Homo sapiens: one gene and its partners. Each later gene encodes a partner of the first gene's protein in a complex. Each region holds a gene or a part of one and is shown on either strand. Other genes may lie near its edges.

The links.
Region 2: RIPK1 (region 1) and AIM2 share a complex: the UniProt entries of both Homo sapiens proteins name them as parts of the AIM2 PANoptosome complex.
Region 3: RIPK1 (region 1) and MEFV share a complex: the UniProt entries of both Homo sapiens proteins name them as parts of the AIM2 PANoptosome complex.

What each region holds. Positions count from the first base shown.
Region 1 is NC_000006.12:3,099,462-3,106,494, reverse strand, and holds part of RIPK1 (receptor-interacting serine/threonine-protein kinase 1), read right to left. Parts: intron 2,271-7,033; coding exon 2,180-2,270; intron 1,074-2,179; exon of another isoform or gene 1,014-1,073; coding exon 444-1,013; exon of another isoform or gene 1-443. UniProt on the Homo sapiens protein: Serine-threonine kinase which is a key regulator of TNF-mediated apoptosis, necroptosis and inflammatory pathways.
Region 2 is NC_000001.11:159,066,744-159,073,776, forward strand, and holds part of AIM2 (interferon-inducible protein AIM2), read right to left. Parts: intron 6,777-7,033; 5' UTR 6,757-6,776; coding exon 6,495-6,756; intron 1,959-6,494; coding exon 1,825-1,958; intron 1-1,824. UniProt on the Homo sapiens protein: Sensor component of the AIM2 inflammasome, which mediates inflammasome activation in response to the presence of double-stranded DNA (dsDNA) in the cytosol, leading to subsequent pyroptosis.
Region 3 is NC_000016.10:3,241,504-3,246,643, forward strand, and holds the end of MEFV (pyrin), read right to left. Parts: intron 5,045-5,140; coding exon 5,022-5,044; intron 3,086-5,021; coding exon 2,970-3,085; intron 2,784-2,969; coding exon 2,751-2,783; intron 2,565-2,750; coding exon of another isoform or gene 2,390-2,564; coding exon 2,357-2,389; intron 2,192-2,356; coding exon 1,638-2,191; 3' UTR 524-1,637; downstream 1-523. UniProt on the Homo sapiens protein: Involved in the regulation of innate immunity and the inflammatory response in response to IFNG/IFN-gamma.

The sequences.
Region 1 (7,033 bases):
ATGGGAGTTAAAAGAAAATTTTTCATCACTAATGGTAGTCTTTGAGCTATATAAGGTCAGAAACAAAAATATCCAAGACTGATTTCTTACCTTCAAAAAGTAGCAAGCAAGGTAAAAGCAAATAAGCAGATAACTTCCCATTTATCAGAGATTGGGTGAAATAGGACTACTATGCACTCCAGGTTAGAGTCAAAGATGCCTGCCAGTCACAAGGACCTGTAACCCGATGCTTGCGGGCATCTGTGATGAATCCTAGCCCCAGATGAAATACTCCCAGACCAAGTGGTTTGGCAGGGTCCATTCCACAGGGGCAATTTGCATCTGGCAGCTGATGATGCCCTCTGTCCCCATTATAACCCACAATCTATAATAGAGCTGCTTGGTTGCTGTATTTTCTGAAAAATAAAAAAAGACAAGCTTGTGACTATCGAAGACCCATTTACCTGTTGGTGGCAAGGAGCTGAATGGCATGGTGGGTGTATTTCCTAGATAGTTGGTCTCAGGCACTGGGATATTATGCAGACTAGGCATATGACTTGGAATTGGCCTGTACCAAACTCTGGGACCTGCTGTTCCTGGATCCAGTGGTCTTGTTCCAAAGCCATGTGAGCTATATAATCCATTGTTCTGATACAGTACTTGAGGTTGGCTGGTGAGCCCTGAGGGCTGGTGCACTGCATTACCATGACTGGCTGCACTGGAATAAGCAGTGCCTTTTCCCTCTGTATTCTGAAAATTCTCGTAAGGTCTTTGCTGTGCAAAAGGGTCATGGGAGACCCTGCGTCTCCTTTCCTCCTCTCTGTTGTAAGCCACATTCTGTCTGGGCTGCTGTTTCGTCTGCCTGTCCATGCGGCTGCCATAAAGATGGTAGTTGGCTTCGTCTTGGAGTTTACTCTGCAGGCTGGGCTCATTCTCTTCTTGTGGGTGCTCCAGGGAAGGAGCAAACCAGGACTCCTCCACAGGACCCATCCCAAGTCCCTGGGAACTGTGCAGTGAACCAGGCTGTTCTGTGGCTGAGAAGAAATGATCAACATTAGAATGGGTGTCATGAAACATTAAAAAGTAAAATAAAATCTGAGCGCCGTCATGAATCTGTATCTCAAAGTAACACACAGAAAACAAGTACGAGACCAGTCCAAAGCATTTAGGAGATGGTCCTCTTCCCACAAGCTTTACAAATAATAATAGGAGCTCCTCGCTGGCAGTAAGAGAGTACTAGGAAAATTATAGCAAGCAAGAGAAAAGCGGCTGTTGCAGGGATGATCAAGGAAAAAAGGGACTTGGTTTGGAGCAGAGAAGGTGGTTGTCTCCTTGGAGCAATTCAGGTGGAAAATAAGATCTGTGGCTGGGTGCGGTGGCTCACGCCTGTAATCCTAGCACGTTGGGAGGCTGAGGCGGACGGATCACCTGAGGTCAGGAGTTCGAGACCAGCCTGGCCAACATGGCGAAACCCCATCTCTACTGAAAATACAAAAATTAGCCGGGCATGGTGGTGCATGCCTGTAATCCCTGCTGCTTGGGAGGCTGAGGCAGAAGAATCGCTTGAACCTGAAAGGCGGAGGTTGTAGTGAGCCAAGATCACACTACTGCACTCCAGCCGGGGTGACAGACTCTGTCTCCAAAAAAAAAAGATCTGCAGCAGCTCTGTCCTAAGCATGTCCCATGAATTCTTTCATTCTTGAAGAGCCCTATGAGAGGAGGAGCAATTATGATTTGATGAGTGAAGTTTAGAAGAGGTTAAGTAATTAGCCACAGATCAGGTAGCTAAGCGGCTTCAGTATCCTATACTCTGCCATCCCTTTTGTTACAGTGAAAAAAGTATCCCTACTTGACCTGAGACCAGCCTCTCTGCTTGTACCCTGGCTGTAAGTCACTCCGAGCTCCTCAGGGACTTTGCTCTCACATATGTCCCCTTCCTTCTTCTGAACTGTCACTTCTCCCCATCAGATATATTAGGCCTTTTGTTCAGAACACTCTATGACTGGTGAGCACACTGTTACTTCATATTTCAAATACATGTAACTTGACTCTCGAATATTATTATAAATTCCTGTAAGGCAGGTGTTCACTTTTATAGTTTCTTCTGTTTCCCATATGGTCCTGAATAGTCTTTTAGAGAGTGGAGTGAATGAGTAACCAAACAAATAAATGAATAGATTTTGACCATAGTGTAATTTACCTGAATTTGACCGGCTTGAAGGTACTGCCACACAATCAAGTTGAAGAGACTGCATTCTCTTCACAACTGCATTTTCGTTTGAATACTCTTTCTATAATTAAGAGCATAAATACACACTTTAGTGAACAGCAGGAAATAGAGTCCCAGAAAATTTTAACGAGAAGAATTCATATTTTCAGAAGGTAGAAATTTCACACAGATCTTACAAGTAGTAATTTTTTAAAATTAATGTTTTTCCCAAATAGCCAAAATGATCTTTAAAAAGAACAAGGTTGTAGGACTCACACTTCCTGATTTCAAAACTTACTACAAAGCTACAGTATTCAAAACAGCGTAGGACTGGCATAAAGACAGGCACATATGCCAGTGGGGCAGAATGGAAAGCCTAGGAATAAACCCTCCTATAAATGGCCAATTGATTTTTGACAAGGTTGCCAAGAGCATTCGATGGGGGAAAACTGAATATACACATATGAAATAATGAAGTTGGACCCTTATTTCATACCATATAAAAATTAACTCACAATGGATCAAAGACTTAATTTAAGGGCTAGTGCCACAAAAATTCTTAGAAGAAAACACAGGGAAAAAGCTTCATGACATTGGACTTGGCAGCGATTTCTTGGTTATGACACAAAAGCACAAACAAAAGTAAAGAGTAAAAATAATACATCAGAATTAAAAGCTTCTGTGCATCAAAGGATACTATGAAAAGAGTAAAAAGATAACCTACAGAATAAGGAAAAAATACTTTGGGAGGCCAAGGCAGGTGGATCCCATGAGGTCAGGAGTTCGAGACCTGCCAGGCCAACATGGTGAAACCTTGTCTCTACTAAAAATACAAAAACTAACCAGGCATGATGGTGTGTGCCTGTAGTCCTAGCTACTCGGGAGGCTGAGGCAGGAGTTATCTCTTGAACCTGGGAGGCAGAGGTTGCAGTGAACCAACATTCTGCCACTGCACTCCAGTCTGGGTGGCGACAGAGCAAGATTCTGTCTCCAAAAAAAAAATAAATAAATAAAATAAAATAATGGGGAAAAAGTTGCAAACAATATATATCTGAAAACGGATGAAATCCAGAACATAAAAAAAAAAAATCCTACAACTCAACAACAAAAAACAAACAACCCAATTCAAAAATGGGCAAAGAACTTGAATAGCAGTTTCTCCATAGAAGATATACAAATGGCCAATAAGCCATGAAGATGCTCAACATCATGAGTCATAGGGAAATGCAAGTCAAAACCACCATGAGGTACACTTTCACACTCCTTAGAGTGACTATAATATAAAAATGGTAAATAAAAAGTGTTGGTAAGATGGTGGAGAAATTAGAATCCTTGTGCATTGCTGGTGGGGAATATAAAATGGTGTAGCTACCATGTAAAACAATTTTAACAGTACTTAAAAGTTAAACATGGCCGGGCATGGGAGCTCACGCCTGTAATCCCAGCACTTTGGGACCTCAGATCACCTGAGGTTAGGAGTTTGAGACCAGCCTGGACAACATGGTGAAACCACCCCATCTCTACTAAAAATACAAAAAACTAGCCGGGCGTGGTGGTGTATGCCTGTAATCCCAGCTACTCGGGAAGGTGAGGCAGGAGAATCGCTTGAACCCGGGAGGCGGAGGTTGCAGTGAGCCGAGATGGTGCCACTGCATTCCAGCCTGGGCAACAGAGGGAGACTCTGTCTCAGAAAAACAAAAAGTTATACATAGAATTACCATATGATCTAGCAATTCCACACCCGGATATATATACCCCAAAGAACTGAAGGCAGGAACTCAAAATATGGTGCAGGTGTAGTATCCCTTATCCAAAATGCTTGGGATTAGAAGTGTTTTGGATTTTGGATTGTTTCCAATTTGGGAATATTTGCATGTACAGAATGACAGATCGTGGGGAGAGGACCTAAGTCTAAACATGAAGTTTATTTGTGTTTCATATGCACCTTATACACATAGCCTGAAGGTCACTTTATACCATATTTTAATAATTTTGTGCATGAAACAAAGTTTGAGGATACTGAACTATCAGAAAGCAGAGGTGTCAGGTGTGGTATTTTCCACTTGTGGCATCATGCTGGCACTCAAAACGTTTCAGATTTTGGAGGATTTTGAATTTTGGATTTTGGGTTTAGGGATGTTCAACCTGTATATCCATATGATGGAATGTTATTCAGCCATAAAAGGGAATGAAATTCTGATACATGCTATGAAACAGATGAACCTTGAAAACATTATGCTAAGTGAAATATGCCAGACTCCAAAGGAAATACATTGTGTGATCCTTTTGCTAGGAGCTACCTAGAATTCAGAGACAGAAAACAGAATAGAAGCTACCAGGGGCTGGGAGAGGGAGGAATGGGGAGTTACCGTTTAGCAGGTACAGAGTTTCAGTTTGGGATGATAAAAAAGTTCTAGATATAGATAGTGGTAATGGCCGCACAACATTATGAATGTACTTAATGCCACTGGATTGTTCACTTAAAAATGGTTAAAATAGAGAATTTTATGTTAAGTATATTTTGCCACAGTAAAAAACTTTTTCCTTATAGGAGCAATAATCCTCATTATAGAAAACATAGAAAATTATATATTCTTAAAACCTATCCATAGTTTTGCCCTACACCCAAAGATAAAATGTTAACACTTTGGTATTTTTCCTTCAAGTTTTTTTTTTCCTAGTTTTATTTGTATTTTGCTGTTAACGATTGTCTGCTATATAAATAAGTGGTCAAAAATACTAGCTAAATGAATACATGCATGATCTAGGGGAGAATGACAGAGGGTATTAATTATGTTCACACTTTGTAGCATTCTATATATTGTTTTTGTCTCTTTGCATGTTTATTTTTAGAGATCAAATCTGCCTCTGTCGCCCAGGCAGGAGTGCAGTGGCATGGTCATAGCTCACTGAAACCTCCAACTCCTGGGCTCAAGCAATCCTCCCAGCTTGTCCTCCCAAAGAGCTGGGATTACAGGCATGAGCCACCTCACCCAGCTGTATGTTTATTGTTTTTAATTAACATGAAAAGGGTTTTTTGTTGTTTTTTTTCTTGAGACAGAGTCTCACTGTGTCCTCCAGGCTAGAGTGCAGGCTCAACCTCCAGGCTCAAGAGAGCCTGCCACCTCAGCCTCCTGTGTAGCTGGGACAACAGGCATGCGCCACCACGCTTGGCTAATTTTTGTGTTTTTTGTAGAGATCGGTTTTTGCCATGTTGCTGGTTTTGAACTGGCCTCAAGAAATCCACCCACCTCAGCCTCCCAAAGTGCTGAGATTACAGGCACGAGCCACCCTGCTTAGCCTAATATGAAAAGTATTTTTGTTATTTTAATTTTATCAAATTGATTTTCTTTTTATAGTTATTTTTATTACACAAATATGTTAAGTACAAAGTCCTTTTGAAAGATTCAAACAGGCCAGACATGGTGGCTCACGCCTGTAATCCCAGCACTCTAGGAGGCCGAGGCGAGCAGATCGCTTGAGGTCAGGAGTTCAAGACCAGCCTGGCCAACATGGTGAAACCCCATCTCTACTAAAAGTACAAAAAAATTAGCTGGGTGTGGTGGTACACGCCTGTAATCCCAGCTACTCGGGAGGCTGAGGCACGAGAATCACTTGAACCCGGGAGGTGGAGGTTGTAGTGAGCCCAGATTGTGTCACTGCACTCCAGCCTGGGTGACAGAGTAAGACCGTCTCAAAAAGAAAACCAAAAAAACCCCCAAAGATTCAAACAATGCAGAATCACATAGAATAACATCCAAACATTCCTTCAGCACCTACTCTTCCATTCTCTAGAGGTAAGCCTTATCCAGAGTGTGATGCATATCACTCTTATTCTCTCTCTAGGAATTTGCACACACATTCCAGAAATATATATATATTTGAGACACAGTTTCACTCTGTTGCCCAGGATGGAGTGTAGTGGCACAATCTTGGCTCACTGCAACCTCCACCTCCCGGGTTCAAGCAATTCTCATGCCTCAGCCTCCTGAGTAGCTGGGATTATGGACATGCACCACCATACCTGGCCAGTTTTTTTTGTATTATTAGTAGAGACGGGGTTTTACCATGTTGGCCAGCTGGTCTCCAACTCCTCACCTCAAGTGATCTGTACAACTCCGCCTCCCATAGTGCTGGAATTACAGGCATGAGCCACTGCACCAGGCCAAAATATATATATCTTTAACATTAAAAGGACCACACTGTAAGTATTGTTTTGTGACTTATTTTTTTCACTAACAGCTAATCTTGAAGATCTTTCTATATCATTACATGTTAGTTTCCACCTCTTTCTTTTAAATGGCTATTAGTATTCTGTAGTTTAGATGAATCATAATTTAGGGCAGTTACTTATGGACATTTGAGTTGTTTCTAATTTTTCACTCTTATAAACTAAGGTGCAAAGAATGGAAACTACATCTTTGAGTGCACGTGAGCAGTATAGATTACTGAGAGTAGAACTGCAGCCAAACTTATGGGCTTGTGGAGTTTGTTGGGTGCCTCACCTTCTAATAAACTTCGCCACTCTTACCAACACTGCAGAAGACTGCTTGTTATTCTGCATTTTCACCAACACACTGTATCACTAATCTTTCAAAAATTTCAATCTAATGGATGAAAAATTGTAACGGGTTCATTTTGCCTTTCTCTGTTGGCGAGGCCAAATATCTTTTCTGAAGTATGTTGTTCAGTTTCTTTTTTGAATTGTCTATGTTCTTTGTCTATTATTTTTCTTTTATTTTGGTTTTTTTGTTTGTTTTTTTGAGACGGAGTCTCACTTTGTCACCCAGGCTGGAGTGCAGTGGCTCCATCTCGGCTCACTGCAAGCTCCGCCTCCTGGGTTCA
Region 2 (7,033 bases), on another chromosome or scaffold:
TTTTACTCTGGTATAAAAGTGAGGGAGCTCAGTGACCAGCACAGGGCTCCCCAAATTCCTAGGGAGCATTGTACATAACAAAATGCAGATTACATTTAATGTGAGTTAAGGGGGAGACCTAGTTCAGAGATCTTATGAGTGAGTTAAAGGAGAAATTTAAAAGGAGAATTAATACTACATTTATGGATTTACCCTTAAATAATGAATTATGCACTAAGGTTTATATTTAAAAAGTACATCTTATTATTTGAAATTATAAAAAAAGAAATAATTTAAATACCTAAAAAATAGATTTGGTTAAATAAAATAGGTATAGTCACAAAAAGATTACTGTGCAAATATTAAAAATGCTTTAGAGAAATATGATAAACTGTTATAACTGATTCAATAAAGGGAAAGGTCCTAAACAGATAAACAATCTGTTTCTTATTGGATAAATAAGCAGTTAAAGCACACACACAAACACACTAGAGAGATATTTACCAACATCAATGTATTTTTTTCCTAGACGATACAATTATAGATAATTTTATTCTCTTCTCTGTGTTTTTTATTTTTCTGAATTAACAGAGATAAGACACCTCTTTTTGGTTTGTTTTGGGAGAAAATACTACTTTTTAAAAGCCACTTGCCATTTAGAACCAAAGGGAAATACAGGGCAAAACAAACAGAGGCATAAAAAGCCAAGCGTAGGAGTCTCTGAAGGGTGTCTCTGATGTGACCTGGAGCTTGGGGCAGTGGAGCTTGGGCCAGTAAGGGGCCCTGATGGGCAGCATAACTGACTGCATTTGGATCAATGCAGGGAAAGGTCAGCTCCACTGAGGTCCACTACAGAAGTCCTTCTCTTTGGTCCATGTATCTTTATTTGGGTCTTCCAGACTGAAAAATGCATATTTTCATTACTGATGAGGGAATCACACCATTTATACTTGAACCTTGTTTTCCTGAAAAATCCAGAAGTTTCTGGGCCAAACCCAGAGGAAATGGTTCCTCTAGACAAAGAGAATGAAGTATATATCATCAGTTTTTAGAGCTCACACAGGTATAAAATAATGTAATACCTGCTTCATAGGAAATGAAACTGCATGTGTGGTGGATTCTGTGCTGGGCCTTTCTAACGTTGTCTGCCACTCCCTCAGGACTAAAGTAATCATTCTCACCAATGACACTCTCCAGCCACTACTCTCTCAGCTAAATGGGGCCACCTCACCTTGTCCATGCAGGTGTATAAAGGGCTTTTTTACATTACTTTTAAAAAAGCAATTTGCTGTCAAGAACCAAGCAGAAAACAAACAGAGGCATGCCAGACCGAGTGTCAGAGTCTCTGAATTGGATCTCTGATGTGACCCAGAGCCTGGGCCTGTACAAACCACAGACTCCCTCACAAATCTTGGGAGCCCTGAAAGACATTCTCAGCTCCCGAGCTCCCTGTAGGGTAGGCCAAGGCCTCTATTGCAACTACATTGGACTTGACATTCTTCCTCTTCTTCTCCTTTCACTTCCTCACAGATATTAATTCTGAAAGTGCTCTAAAATAGACTTCCTGTAAACAACGGTCTATCTCAGAGTTTTCTTCTTATAGAATCCAAAACATAACAAAGTGTTAATGTGTCCAGAACCTGGCAGAGATTAGAAGCTCAACAGGTGTTTAATCTGATGAATCAAAGGTAGTTCCTGTTTTTGTGACTCAGAATGCTTTTCATGCTGTGGCCTTGCTTCCCTTATTTGCATGCTGTGAGATAAAGAACAGAGAACAATATGGGAAGTGACAGTGACAGTGATGCTCTTACAAGGACAAAGACCACTCCACTCTCCTTATCCTACCTTAACATGAGGAGAGACTTTTGGTGCAGCACGTTGCTTTGCGACATCATTTCTGATGGCTGCAGATGCAGCAGGACTCATTTCAGCTTGACTTAGTGGCTTTGGTTTTGTTACCGATTTGTATTGCTTATCAACTGATTAAAAAATGAAAGACATGGCCAATAAGCATATAAACATATGAGCAGTGCACATTTTCAAATGTCACCAGGAATAAATACTAAAACCATATTAAGATATCTTCAAGAACAGCTAATTTTTCTTAAAAAAAAATCATATTTTAAAATGAAAGAAACTGGACCTGGCACAGACACCAGTAATCCCAGCACTTTGGGAGGCCAAGGCTGGAGGATCACTTGAGGCCAGGGGTTTGAGACCAGCTTAGTCAACATAGGGAGACCCTATCTTTACAAAAAATATTTTCAAAATTAGCCAGGTATAATGGCACATGTTTTTAGTCCCAGCTACTTGGGAGGCTGAGGCAAGGATAACTTAAGCCCAGGAGTTCAAAGCTGCAGTGAGTCATGATTGCACCACTGCACTCCAGCTTGGATGACACAGTGAGACCCTGTCTGTCTCAAAAAAAAAAAAAAGACAAGAAACAAAAACTATGAAGTAGTAGTCGTCTTAAATTGGTATAACACTTTGGAAAATGGTTTGGGACGCTATTTATTAAAATTCAATATCTACTTACCTTAACATCCAGTAATACCATTCACAGGTGTACAGTCAAGAGAAACACACATACAAATACAAACATACAAAGATAAGTATATAAGGCTTATAATGTACATAAATATTCATAGCAGCATTATTCATAATGGCCTCCAATGACTAAAATAACAATAAAAATACACCAATTCTCTCTCTCTATATATATGTATATCAGTTTATGTGTATATGTAATTATCAATTAAATGGAATCTTATGTAGTAGTGAAAATGAATAAACTGCTGCTATGAAACAAGGGCTGATTTCTTTCTTTTTTTTTTTTTTGAGACGGAGTCTCACTCCGTCACCCAAGCTGGAGTGCAGTGGCGCAATCTTGGCTCACTGCAACCTCTGCCTCCTGGGTTCAAGTGATTCTCCTGCCTCAGCCTCCTGAGTAGCTGGGATTACAGGCTCATGCCACCACGCCTGACTAATTTTTGTATTTTTTTAGTAAAGATGGGGTTTCACCATGTTGTTAAGGCTGGTCTTGAGCTCCTCACCTCGTGATGCGCCCACCTCAGCCTCCCAAAGTGTTGGGATTACAGGCGTGAGCCACCGCGCCTGGCCACAGATTTCTAATTATGTTCTACAAGGCCTTGCATTTTCCTTCTGTCGAGGGGACCCCATCCTGCCCTCTGAAGATTCTCTGTACTGCAGCCATACTGGCCTTCTTTCAGTCCTCAAGCAAGTCAACACCTGCTGTCAGAGGGATTTTCACACAGTGTTCCCTCTGACTGAAGGTACCTTTAACTCCTATGCATTTTTCACAGCTTAGTGCAAGTCACTTCCCCATGGAACCCGCTTTGACCAACACCAACTCTAACTCCTGGCTTATGTTAATGCTCCTTTGACACATGCTGCTGAAGAACCATCTTCCTTTCCATCAGAACATTTGTCTCAGTTAGTTACCTGTCTCAGTTAATTTGCCTGTAAGAAAAATATCTACTTTCCCTTTAGAGTATAAACTGTACAAAATTTGGATTTGTTTTTAAAACCTTGTTTTATCATAAGAACCTAAAAGCTTTCCTTGTACCTATTAGCAATTCAATGGATATTTACTGAATGGATGAAGAAATGGATGGATGGGTGGCATGTTGGCTCCTCACTAATGCCTACAAAATGCAGTCGTATACTCTGGCTGGGCTCCTCCACGTCTATGGTCAGGTTATATGTTATCGTGAAAAGCCAACTCCTACTCCTGATTTTTAAAAAGACCATGTAACAAGATGGCCATGTTTGATGACTTAAGGCACTCTCAGGCAGAAGAGGGCCTGGGAAATTATTAGATGTTATTTCTGATAGAATTTGAACAATTCTGGACTGAAATAGCAAGGCAATCACTGATTTTACTAAAAAGAGAAACGATTTAATTATTAGAGCTAAGAGTAGAATGAACTGTCTTATGAGGTAGTAGGTACTCTGTCATTACCTTTCAAAGATCAGAAAGTGGTTGACTGTCTGACAGGGATATTGTAGCAGGATCTCTGCACTAGGAAGAAGTTAAACTAACCTTCCAATGGTAAGTTAGTTCCATGAAATTGGTTTCAGAAAGGTATGCAGATAAAGTCTCTCTTCTATGTTCACAGCATCGGAGAGAAAACAGCATCAAGGGAGGCGGAAGGAATCAACCTACCATTCTACCACATCACATCAGCCATATTTCATTTCACACACTGTGGTACCAATGCAATATTTGTGGACAAGCTTGTCTGCCAATTATAAATCTCTCATTTGCCTTAATAATCAGGTGCACATTGTTACTGATTATTTCATTTATCATTTTCAGCATTTTATTTTAATCTTGCAGGACTTTTGTGGACTTTGATCACATTTTCTCTTAGCTTCCTTTTTCTACGCTTATGTGTCCTTATATTTTCTCATCTTGCTTCATACAAAAGCTTCTCCTGTCTACTAATTATTGCCTCTGTCTTCATTAAAGATTCTCCAGGTATCTTCTACCTTCCATGAGGTGAGGTCATGAGTAGAATAGCATATAGCACTCTACATGCAGACATGCAATGGCAATGGAGAAGGATCACTTAACCAAGAATGACAGATTAACTGTTCAAAAAATAAAACAAAAACTGTTTTCCTAAAATAATAGAAATAGCATGGACACACAAAAATTTCCTACATTCAAAAGCGGCCTAAGTATGTCCGTGGATAGAATTTTAGAGCTATGAAGGAACTTAACTGCCTTCTTGTATAGCATGCAAGAAGCATACTTTGTGTTTTGTTGTTGTTGTTGTTTGAGACAGGGTCTCACTGTTGTTGCCCAGGCAGGAGTGCAGAGGTGTGATCTCAGCTCACTGCAACCTCTCCCTCCCAGGTTCAAGTGATTCTCGTGCCTCAGCCTCCCAAGTAGCTGGCATTACAGATGCCCGCCACCATGCCTGGCTAATTTTTGTATTTTTAGTAGAGACAAAGTTTCACTATGTTGGCCAGGCTGATCTCGAACTCCTGAACTCAAGTGATCCACCCGCCTTGGCCTCCCAAAGTGCTGGGATTAAAGGCGTGAGCCACTGCGCCTGGCCCAAAAGCATACTTTGAATCCTACAACTGTTACATTTGGAGACTCTCATTTGGGAGAGTCCTTGGATAATCTACTCCTGAGTTTCCAAGCTAGTCCCAAACTGGATCTTTTTTAGCTAAGCAGAATAACAAAATCCCAGAATCATTAGAATAGCAAAATGGGGAGAAGATTGTAGAAGGGGAAATTTTGTTCTATCCTGGTCAAAGAGAAGAATTAATTCTTGATTTATTACCAAAATAAAAGATATTTCTAAATATCTCAGCCTATGTTTGCCAATATGCCTAGATTCCTGGCTCATCCCAGATAAGAAAAACACAGGGCAATGTTTTGGTTGGTTACTTGGAAGTAACATGTGTAGTTACTGCCATCTAAGGGCCATCTCTAAGAACTACACCTTCTAACTTAAAGCCTGGGAAAACCACCACTCCTTTCTCTTTAGTGCCTTAGAAACTACCTAACAGTTTATATCTGTATAGAATTATGAATGTACATAGTATCACTTATGTGGCTTCATTTAGCCTTCCTATAACTCATGTGTGAGAAGCCATGTCACCCTTGTTGTACACCCACAAATGCTACTAAAAGCTATTATAATTTTTGCTGCTACTGTTGTACTTTGAATCCTAAAACTGTTGCATTTGGAGACTTTCATTTTGGAGAGTCCTTGAGTGATATGCTCCTCTGTTAGCTCCTTTTTGTTCTTCAGACATAAAGCTGGGACATATCAATTGTTCTTAGTAAACAAAATCAGGAATTTAAACTAAATGTAGATAATTCAGATGGAGATGAGTGATTTATTGAATAATGTAAAAAAAATCTTTGTGTTGTGGGTAATTTATACTGTCACCTGTACTGGAGATAGAGAGGAAAGAAAATCCCTGAAGGTGGATTCTCCCTCCCTTCTGAAGAAGGAGGAGATCATCGCCTAAAGAAGGATAGTCTGGGACCACAGAAAGCTGGGGACAAGGAGAGGAATAGACAGACTGTGTGAAGGAAAAAAGGTGCTCAATATCCTGGTTTACAGTTTTCCAATGCAATAATTTATACTTTCAAGACTTCAGTAGAATGTGACAGCATTACATACTGTGTAAATGGAGTTGGGAGAAGTTAACTTTGAAATTCTACGTCCATATTCACTGCAACTGAACTGGAGACAAAGATGGGCAAGGAGAAAAGATGTTAAATGGAAGTGGTAACCCTAAGGCTGGAAGAAGAGATGCAAACAAAGGCTGGAATGGATTTGTGGAATTTGTAACAAACACTTCCTAGAAGCGATTCTCAGTAAAAGGGGGCAAAGAGACAGGTGCACTAAGTTAGCAAACAAATTCCAACAATGTGCACTGGGGGTCATATCCCAGGGATGCCATGAAAGGAAAGGCCCAGGCTTGGCAGAAAAAGGGACGGGGCAGGTGTGGAACTCCCACATTACCTTTCTCCTTCTCCTCCTGAAGACGTTTTGCCAAAAGCATATAATTCAACTTCTGAAAAATACGAATGGTCTTCATCACTGCAGACACCGCCCCAGCATTTTGAATCATCAAGGTAGCTACTTGTATTCTGTTTGCAGTATGTAGTTTGCCTGTGGCAATATTAAACTCGTCTGAAAGAAAGAACTTAAACCTATCCAGTTCCTCATCAGTGATGTTATCCAGGCCTGTTAGCAAGAGTATCTCCTTGTATTTACTCTCCATCTGACAACTTTGGGATCAGCCTATAAGGAATCCAAAACATGTAAGATTACACCACCAAAAGTGATTCTACATTCAAAATAAAGCAAGGTGAGCTATTAATATTTTTTAAAGAAAAATAAAATATTTGCAGTAGTAAAAGAGATTTGAGTAGGACATAGGTAAGAACTTCTTAAGCAAGGTGATCACTACTCCTGGGAAAGACATCTTCAGAAAGTATACAACACCTCTGGAATTCTCAGAAAACAAGATACATTAGCTGGGCGCGGTAGCTCACGCC
Region 3 (5,140 bases), on another chromosome or scaffold:
ATAGGAGTTTGGAATTTAATCTTCATTTGATTTTTTTCTTCTTACATCCACTTTTTGGAGACAGGGACTCACTCTGTTGCCCAGGCTGGATTGCCGTAGTGCAGTCTCAGTTCACTGCTGCAGCCTCGATCTCCTGCGCTCAAGCCATCCTCCCACCCCCATCCCTATGGCTAATTTTTGTATTTTTTGTAGAGACGGGTTTTCGCCACATTGCCCAGCTGGTCTCAATCCCTGGGCTCAGGCGATCCACCCGCCTTTGCCTCCCAAAATGCTGAGATTACAGATGTGAGTCACCATGCCCGGCCCCTTTACATCTCTTTAAATGAAGGACAAATGCACGGGATGTGTGTGAAGTAGAACCTAATATTCCACAACCCGCAGATTTTCCCATACAAACCAAGACAGAATAATCTGACACTTGGAATACATGCCAAATGTTTTTCCATACAGTAGTCCCATCTGCTTCCTGAAATGCAGTCGGGAAATGGGATTCCACAGTGATTGAGTGACAAATGCAAATGACCAGATTTTCTAATTTTTTTATTCATGAGGCCCAGTCAATTCTCTTAAGAATCATGGCCCGGCATGGTGGCTCATGCCTGTAATCCCTGCACTTTGGGAGGCTGAGGTGGGTGCATCACCTGAGGTCAGGAGTTTGAGACCGGCCTGGCCAACATGATGAAACCTCATGTCTACTAAAAATGCAAAAAATTAGCCGGGCATGGTGGCGGGCGCCTGTAATCCCAGCTACTTCGGAGGCTGAGGCAGGAGAATCTCTTGAACCTGGGAGGCGGAGGTTGCGAGCCAAGATTGCACCACTGCACTCCAGCCTGGGTGACAAGAGCAAAACTTTGTCTCAAAAAAAAAAAAAAAAAAGAATCATAGGCCGGGCACAGTGGCTCATGCCTGTAATCCCAGCACTTTGGGAGGCTGAGGCGGGTGGATCACCTGAGGTCAGGAGTTCGAGACCAGCCTGGCTAACATGGTGAAACCCCCGTCTCTACTAAAAATACAAGAAAACCAGCCTGGTGTGGTGGCACGCACCTGTAATCCCAGCTGCTCAGGAGGCTGAGGCAGGAGAATCGCTTGAACCTGGGAGGTGGAGGTTGCAGTGAGCTGAGATCGTGCCACTGCACTCCAGCCTGGGCCACAGAGCAAGATTTGGTCTCAAAAAAAAAAAAAAAAAATCATAGTTCATTAATCCAGGTACACAAATACTTCTATCCCAATCCAGTCTGCTTGCGTTTCTCTAGGCTTCCCATATCCTCAAGACAGAAGCAGAGAGAACAAGGGGACATATATCCTTGCCGTGGGGTTCTGAGGGAAAATGAGGGCCAAATCTTCTGTTCAGGAGCACCTGAGAGTGCCACCCACCAGGGGCGGATTATGCAACGACTCCGTACTTCCTCCTCTGAAATCCATGGTGTGTCATCAGTACATGTCTTCACCCGGATTGACTAACATGTTCGTTCCTAACTTACCTCTGCTATAATCGGGTAGGCTCCGTGGGCACAGTAACTATTTTGTTATTTTTGCATTTCCCATAGCAGCTAGCACCTAGTCGGCATTCCGTGACTATTGAGTGTGAATGCAAGATACAAGGCCAGAAGCAGGAAGAGAGATGCAGTGTTGGGCATTCAGTCAGGCCCCTGACCACCCACTGGACAGATAGTCAGAGGAGCTGTGTTCTTCCCTCCATCACGTGTCCCAGGGCTGAAGATAGGTTGAAGGGGCCCAGAGAAAGAGCAGCTGGCGAATGTATAGATGTGGGATCTGGCTGTCACATTGTAAAAGGAGATGCTTCCAACTCTGTAGTCCACGAAGATGCCCACACGCTTGGGAGGCTCCTTTATTAGCAGGCGGGTCGGGGGAACGCTGGACGCCTGGTACTCATTTTCCTTCATCATTATCACCACCCAGTAGCCATTCTCTGGCGACAGAGTCATGTTCCCTTTCCTGCTTATGGATGTCTTGCAGGCTCCCAGGATCCATGCTGTCTTGTCTCCAACCTCCACCTCCCAGTAACGGCGGCCAGAGAGGAAACTCGGAGAGCCCAGAACAATGATACAGCTGTCAAATCTTTGCGGGCCATCAGGCAGCCTCTCCCACTTGTTTCCAAGTCTAACACTCTTCAGATCATCAGAGAAGATGAGGTTGGGGTAAGCGGTTTCTGCATCCAGAATCACATTAACTGCAAAGAAAATTTGAATACCTAGGTAGGGGTCCATGGGCAACATCCCTACAGGGTTCTCCCCACCTGCAGGAAACAGGGACAGGGTAGTTCTTCTGGAACGTGGTAGGGGAGAGCACAGGGATCCAGCAGGCCAGGGCCACTTGCCTTGATCTGGGCACTTACCAGCATGTGCCTGAGCGCCAATCAGCTCCGGAACTACGGAGAAAAATCAGATAGGGAAAAAAATCCTGAGCATTAGCATTAAGAGGGGCTAAATTACACTGTCCTGACAACAAGGAAAGACAAGGAACCCCCTGCTTAGGGCCCTGCATGCTATGTTGGGTATAATCCCGTTCCTCCCAGGAACCCAGGCCATGTTGGGGACTGTGGTCTAATGAGTCAACTCAGTCAATGAGTCACGCACAGAGCCTGGGGGGCCTGCCATGACCTTTCTCCTACCTTTGCTCCAGGTGTTTGGTTTTTTTTTTTGTCTTCTAAATAGGGCCCCTCAAGTCAACAGCACAAGGGAACACTGCAACAACCCCAGGCCAGCACACACCATTACCGCTGGACTCACCATTGAACATTTCCATTTCTGAACGCAGGGTTTCTAAAATGTGGGAAAGGGAGCAGAGAGAAGCTGGAGTTAGGTCCCTCAGCCAGGGACAGATGGAGGAGAGGTTGAAGGCAGGTCAGCAAGACCAGGGGAAGAGGAGGGAAGTGAGGGGCTCTGGGCTATGTGGATCTTAGGGAGGAAGTGAGCATGCACCTCCAATCTTCTCCCAAGCCCATCTACCTGAGAAGTACTTTGTGCTCTTCTCCACAAACTCTGACTTCTGGTGGAGGAGTTGGATCTTTTGTTTTATCTCTTGAGGAGTGGTCCACTTTTCAGGGACAGGCACTGTCTTAGCCCTAGAGACAAAAGACTGTTGACCAGAGAAGGCCGGAGCGAGGGGGTGGCCCAAGTACCCGTGAGCTGGAAATGAACTACATTCTCCACAGGGCACACCTAGCCCAGCCTGAGCTACACAAAGAAAAGTCTTCCCTGGATTCAGAGGTCTAAATGCTGGTCCTCAACTTTGGCCACAGACTGTCATGTACTGGGGTGCTTTAAAGACATGGATATCAAAACCACAAGGAGTTTTCAGAATGGACTTAAAATGACATTGATATTATCTACTAGAATTATCTATGTCAAATTGATTATACACCCCTTTCTTTCTATTGAAATAAAAAGATAATAAATGAAAAAAAAACACACACAACAAAATATCCCTTCACATCCATTAGAATGGCTATTATAAAAACAGCAACAACAGAAAAAAATAGACCAGGTATGGTGGCTCATGCCTGTAATCCTAGCACTTCAGGAGGCCGGGGCAGTGGGATCGCTTGAGCCCAGGAGTTCAAGTCCAGCTTGGGCAACATGGCGAAACCCTGTCTCTATTAAAAATACAAAAAAGTAGCCGGAAGTGGTAGCACATGCCTGTAGTCCCAGCTACTCAGGATGCCAGCTACTCAGAATCACCCGAGCCCAGGAAGCTGAGCCTGCAGTGAGCTGTGACTGTGCCACTGCTCTCCAGCCTTAGTGATGGGAGTGAGACCTTGTCTCAAGAAGAAAAGAAAGGAAGGAAGGAAGAAAGGAAGGAAGGGAGGGAGGGAGGGAAGGAAGGAAAGAGAAATGGCTGGGCACGGTGGCTCACGCCTGCAATCCCAGCGCTTTGGGAGGCCAAGGTGGGTGGATCACTTGAGGTCAGGAGTTTGAGACCAGCCTGGCTAATATGGTGAAACCCTGTCTACCAAAAAAATTAGCTGGGCATGGTGGCACGCTCCTGTAGTCCCAGCTACTAGGGAGGCTGAGGTGGGAGAATCCCTTGAACCTGGGAGGCAGAGGTTGTAGTGAGCCAAGATCGCGCCACTGCACTCCAGCCTGGATGACAGAGCAAGACGCTGTCTTCAAAAAAAAAGAGAGAGAGAGAGAGTGAAACAGAAGAAAATAAGTGATGGCAAAGATGTGGAGAAACTGGAGCCCCTGTGTGCTGCTGGTGGGAATGTGAAGCGATGCAGCCCCTGTGAGAATTAGGATGGTGGTTCCTCAAAAAAAATTAAACACAGGATAACCACATGGTCCCGCAGTTCCACTTCTGGGTAGGTACCCAAAATAACAAAGCAGGGTCTCAAGCAGATATTTGTACACCCTTGTTCATAGCAACATTATTCACAAACCAAAAGTTAGAAGAAGTCCCGATATCCATGAATGGATAAGCAAAATGTATGAACACACACTGGACTATGATTCAGCCATAAAAAGAAAATAAATTCTGATACACGTTACAACACGGATGAAGCCCGAAGACATTATGCTAAGTGAAGAAGCCAGACACAAAAGGACACCGGGATTTTGTAAAGCTCCCAGGTGATTTTAAGGCTTAGCCTCTTCCTGTCCCTTCCCTCCCCTCCCCTTCCTGCTGGGCTTAGCCCAGCTCCACTCCAAACAAGCTTCCCAAGGCCACCAGTAGGCCTGAAGGGGCAGCTTTCATCAGATGAACTGCACGGGACACAATGCACTCGGAAGGTTTCTTAGGGAGCCTCCATCTTGTTTCAGCAGGATGGGCTGAATTCACCCTTCCCAGTCTGCAGCTCCATACCCGGCCAGCCTCCCTGCTGACCAGATGCCCTTCTCCCTATCAAATCCAGAGAGGCTTTGGGAAGCTGCAGAAAAAAGGAGGAGTCTGGAATCACAGACCCCGGGGTTGGGAACATCTCCCTCCCAGGTCCCTTCTGGGACTGTCTCCCCCATATGCTTTCTGCAAGACACCCCAGGGTACACCACAGGACCTCGCTGTACCTGTGCAAGATGTCTCCAATGTCCTAGGAGAAAAAAGAAGGAAACTGTCGGTTACCAGGCTCCTAGTGGCTGGGCTGACTCCTGGCCTCTACTTCTGGGCTCCTGGACTTTTAGCTCCC